Regions from separate parts of the Homo sapiens genome. Here region 2 is linked to region 1. The links come from fine-mapping of genetic effects on gene expression. A gene starts in region 1. The other region holds a variant in brackets. All regions are shown on one strand. Distances are from middle to middle.

Evidence for each region. PIP is the estimated chance that this variant, and not a neighbour inherited with it, causes the effect.
Region 2: its variant is fine-mapped to the expression of FARP2 in non-classical monocytes (Schmiedel 2018, PIP 0.95).

The regions. Positions count from the first base shown.
Region 1 is chr2:241,355,239-241,357,980 of GRCh38, reverse strand. It overlaps FARP2 (FERM, ARH/RhoGEF and pleckstrin domain protein 2), which reads right to left and starts at 1,696. Exons shown (of 27, transcript NM_014808.4): 1 at 1,593-1,696. RefSeq lists a silencer at 1,359-1,908.
Region 2 is chr2:241,407,081-241,409,825 of GRCh38, reverse strand. FARP2 (FERM, ARH/RhoGEF and pleckstrin domain protein 2) reads right to left here. Exons shown (of 27, transcript NM_014808.4): 5 at 2,211-2,289. Among named protein-coding and RNA genes, the nearest start is that of FARP2, 52 kb to the right of the region's middle. The variant TG/G (reference allele first, on the strand shown) is at 1,284.

The DNA of each region.
Region 1 (2,742 bases):
TGAGCTCATGCAATCTGCCTGCCTCGGCCTCCCAAAGTGCTGGGATTACAGCCACTGTGCCTGGCCAAGTAAATTTTAAACTCATTTTTTGAATAAGGAACCTGAGGCAGAGAGAAATGAATACACCTTATATCAACTTCCTCTTTGGGAAAGGAATTAGTATACAAGGAACCTGGAAATTTACTAACGACTGATAGTCCTATAGGTAAATAAGCCAGCAAACGTCTGCAGTCCAGGAAACTGCATCATCAGCATTTAGTTTGTTAACAGTGAACCACCTAATGAGAATCTGCAACAAGGATAGGGCACATGAGAAGTACAGATGGTATTTGCAAGTACCCTAGGTGTGACCCTAAACTGGTCATTCCACCTCTCTCAACCTCCCTTTCCTCTACTTTAAAACGGGGCTGTGCAACTTGGTCATGTCTCTGAAGAGTTTTGGAAAACTGAATAAATAACGAGCATGAAGTGCTTCCTAAACCTTTAAGGACCTCAAAAAACAAAACAAAACAAAACTTTCAACAAGCAGATGTAGAAAATTTAAATTATATTTGGCCTACAAGTAAAGGTTACTCCATGCTTCCCTACCTCAAATGTCCTCTCCCATCTCTCTGGTACTGAGAAAATCTGTGTCGCCTGTTATAAGGCAGTCTACACAAGACCAACACGCTAACCCACTGCCACCTCAGGGTTATCAAACATTTACACAGTGGCCCAGACAAAAATATCCCACGGAAACAAAACAAAAACAAAAACCCAGAGAGAAAAACCACCCTTTAAAGATTTGGCCTTGGGTTTTAAATTTGCCCATCCCTTTTTAACACTATGTATTGACAATCTTTCCTTCAATGATGCCTTGTTCTAATTTCTGCTTTTCACATCCATTAATGGCACATGATAGGCCAGGGGTTGCTGCCATAGCGTAAACGGAAAAGGTGCCCGTAATTCGGGTGTGTAATGTACTGGGCCATATTCTGGTCCCCAGTTTTCATGGGTTTCCCAAAGGCTACCCACTGGCTTATGAGTATTTCTAGCCCTTAGTGGAGTAAAAATATTAACACCTAACACTTGATTCCCACCTTTAAGATACAATTTAAAGAAATGCTAAAAAGGCAAACGGCTCAAAATGCCTCCACCAGGCACCTCCAGGCCCATACCCTGCGGGTCCCTATGGCCCACTCTGGGGTGTCCTTCCGGGATGGGACACTCCCCGGCCCACGGCCCTGCCGGCCTCCACGGGGCACAACTCAACCCGCGAGTCCACGCGGGACACTCCCCGGTCTACAGCCCCACCGGCCTCCTCCACGCGGCACCCCTCAACCCGGGAGTCCACGCGGGCCACTCCCCGGCCCACCGCCCCGCCTGCCCCCACGCGGCAGGCTCCCTACAGACGGACGCTCCTCTAACCCGGACCCGCCTAGGAGCTCCAGCCGCCTCACGATGGCCTTCAGAGGCCGGGCGGGACCATCTCTGGTGGACCGCGGCCTCAGCGCCCCCCCCGCCTGGGCCTCTCGCCTCGGGCCTCGGGCTTCGCCGCCCACCCGGAGAGGCCCACCCCTGCCCCACGCGCCCAGGCCGCTTCACGTCCTCACCCTCGGCCTCTCGCTCGCCCGCCGCGTCCTCACCGGCCTCGCCCGGCCTCCGCAGTCGCAAGCAGCAGCCGCCAGACTCGCGTCGGCGTCGCCTGCTCCCAACTGCCCGCCGGCAGCCCCCGCGCAGCGCGCCCCGCCCTGACCCCGCCCCCGCGACGCGGACGCGCAGTCGATTGGCCTGCGGGGCGCCAGGGCGGAGCCTTCCCGTCCCGCGGCCTGAAAGCGCAAGATCGAGTTCTGATTGGTGAACGGACGGAGAAGGGGCGGGAGCAGGCAGGCAGCTGCGTAGGATATAAATCTGTGCAGCGCTCGGCTCGTTGGGCGGGGCGTCGGCTTGCTGAGCGAGGCAATGTCCTAGGCGAAGCCAAGGCTCGCTGGGCGGGGCTAGATCTTGGGCGGGGAGTCGGCTCGTTGGGTGGGGCTAGGTCCTGGGCGGGGAGTCGGCTCGCTGGGCGGGGCTAGGTCCTGGGCGGGGAGTCGGCTCGCTGGGCGGGGCTAGGTCCTGGGCGGGGAGTCGGCTCGCTGGGCGGGGCTAGGTCCTGGGCGGGGAGTCGGCTCGCTGGGCGGGGCTAGGTCCTGGGCGGGGAGTCGGCTCGCTGGGCGGGGCTAGGTCCTGGGCGGGGAGTCGGCTCGCTGGGCGGGGCTAGGTCCTGGGCGGGGAGTCGGCTCGCTGGGCGGGGCTAGGTCCTGGGCGGGGAGTCGGCTCGCTGGGCGGGGCTAGGTCCTGGGCGGGGAGTCGGCTCGCTGGGCGGGGCTAGGTCCTGGGCGGGGAGTCGGCTCGCTGGGCGGGGCTAGGTCTTGGGCGAGGTCTAGGCTCGCTGGGCGCGGATAGGTGCTGGGCGAGGCCTAGGCTTGCTGGGCGCGGATAGGTGCTGGGCGAGGCCTAGGCTTGCTGGGCGCGGATAGGTGCTGGGCGAGGCCTGGCTCGCTGGGCGGGGATAGGTCTTGGCCCGGGCCTTGCCGGCTGTCCTTGCACCCTTTGGCTCAGTCCCTGGCTGCCAGCCTCCTCCTTCCTCCAACGCATTGCATCCCTCGTGGGACTACAGGGACCGAAGGGGATCATCGAAGGATCGCGCGAGGCTGTGCTAAGGCTGAGACAGGCTGCTCCGTGGTGGCGGCCAGGACGGCCTTCCTCTGGCCTAGGGACCCC
Region 2 (2,745 bases), 52 kb before region 1:
AAATTATGTTACAGCCTAATTTAGTATATTTTTATATACGATATGGAAAAATGTCCACAGCATGCTTAATAAGTGGGGGGAAAAATCAACCTACAGTTCAATACGTATCATTTGATATTGTTTTATAACATTTGTAATTTCTTTAAAGTTCTGATATCTATGTGTTTATTGCACATCTATGCTTTCATCTGAAAGATACGTACTTATGCGGAGAATAAGGTGCTGAGTAAATGGAGAACTTTTACTTTTTACTTATCTTTGTTTACTTATTTTTTTTGAGACAGGCTCTCACTCTATTGCCCAGGCTGGAGTGCAGTGGCGCTACCACAGCTCACTGCAGCCTCAACCTCCTGGGCTCAAGTGATACTCCTGCCTCAGCCTCCAGAGTAGCTGGACTACAGGTGCATGCCACCATGCCTGGCTAATTTTTTGATATTTTGTAGAGATGAGGTCTCCCCATGTTGCCTAGGCTGGTCTTGAACTCCTGAGCTCAACTGATCCCCCCACCTTGGCGTCCTGAAGTGCTGGAATTACAGGTGTGAGCCGTTGCACCTGGCCCTTAGCTTTATTTGGAAAAAAAATTCTTTTACCACAAACATGTACATTTTTATAAACAGAAAAAAGAATCCTCCACATAAATATGGGGGAGAAGGGAGTAACTATAATACTGAGTTATCAGCATGAGTCCTAGAACTTGAGACCCAGGATCCTGAATGAGGGGACACTTTGTTATCCATCATTTTCAGGTATCTATCTATCTATCTATCTATCTATCTATCTATCTATCATCTATCTATCTATCTATCTCTATTTAAAAGTGATTCCCTCAAAAGAGACTTTTTTTTTGGTAAATGTCAGGCATTTAATACACTATTAAGATCTATGGTCACTCATAAAAATACTTTTTGCCATCTTTGGAGTTTCCTAAACCTTTAAAAATAAGAGGGTGAACTAATGTGGTCTCTCCATTTCCTTGCAGCTGACATTCTACGATTTTGTGTTGCTAAAATGATATGCAGAAACCTTTAAAAGAGAGTTCATAAGACATCTGATTCATTTATGAGTACACTTTTAGCCAGAAGGCAAAAAAGTTATTGATACCACTACAACATCATAGTTCTCTTTTATATCTAATTTTGGGTTTTCAGTTGCTTTTTAGGTTATTCCTCTATTCTTCATAATATAATTGATATGTGAACAAATACAAAAAATACAAAGAAAAACCTTCCATAACCTTACTGTCCAGATGAAACAATTGTTAATATTTTCTTTTTTTTTTTTTT[TG/G]AGACAGAGTTTCGCTCTTGTTGCCCAGGCTGGACTGAAATGCCAATCTCGGCTCACTGCAACCTCTGCCTCCTGGATTCAACAGATTCTCCTGCCTCAGCCTCCCAATTAGCTGGGATTAAAGATGCCTGCCACCACGCCTGGATAATTTTCTTTTCTTTTTTTTTTTTGAGACGGAGTCTCGCTCTGTCACCCAGGCTAGAGTGCAGTGATGTGATCTTGACTCACTGCAAACTCCGCCTCTCGGGTTCATGCCACTCTCCTGCCTCAGCCTCCTGAGTAGCTGGGACTACAGGTGCCCGCCACCATGCCCGGCTTATTTTTTGTATTTTTAGTGGAGACGGGGTTTCAAAACTGTGTTAGCCAGGATGGTCTCGATCTCCTGACCTCGTGATCTGCCCGCCTTGGCCTCCCAAAATGCTGGGATTACAGGCGTGAGCCATTGCACCCTGCCATCTTTAGATCATTCCTATAAAGAATTGATCTTTAATTCAAAATAGTAGCACAAAAGAAGTGACCCAAAGTATTTCTGCTCCATAAATCCATAAGAACTAACACACTGGGTACTTCTACCAATTAAGTATATTTTATTGATAAATAAGTATATATGAGCAAAATCCCTGAGAACCTTATGAACATGCATAAATCTATGTTCATTTGGAAAATGTAAGTTCAACATGACCCTAACATCCCATTCCATTTTTTATTTTCAAATTTGTACTGTAAACCTTACACTGAAGTCTTATTCACATGTGTTTGTGCAAGGGTCAACTGCCAACATGCTTCTGTTAACCACTCTACACTCATGGTCACTTTTCTGTGTATATCAGGCTTATTCATTCTTTCAATGAGCCAGGTGCTGTGGGAGATAACAGGTGAATACAAGATTCCTGCTGACAACAGCTTCAGCTCTGTGAGCTCTTTACCTTGTATATTCTTCTTGTAGCTGACCAGGATCAGGTGGAAAAAATTTTACAGCTAGGCGAAGCACCACATTCTTTGGCCCTATAACAAAAAAATTTAAACTTCACAAATAAGGCCGATCTTTGCATTTATTCTCTTTTCATATATTACTGTATAACTGAGGTCATGCTTCCAAGTGGACTGTTACAGCAAATCTTTTCAAATAATATGATATTAAGAAATTTCTGCCCAGGTGTGGTGGTGTGTGCCTGTAATCCCACCCCTTTGGGAGGCTGAGGTGAAAGGATGGCTTGAGGCCAGCAGTCTGAGGTTGCAGTGTGCTACAACTGCACCACTGCACTCCAGCCTGGGCAGCAGGGTGAGACCCTGTCTCCGAACAAAAGAAAAAACAAAGAAGCATTTCCTGTATATGAATTTATGAGTCCCAAGTACCAATCACATATATATATAGAATTTTAAAATCTTTTGCATTCAGCAGGGATTACTCAAGGAAGCCTTAAAAACAAGTAGGGCTGGGCGCGGTGGCTCACGCCTGTA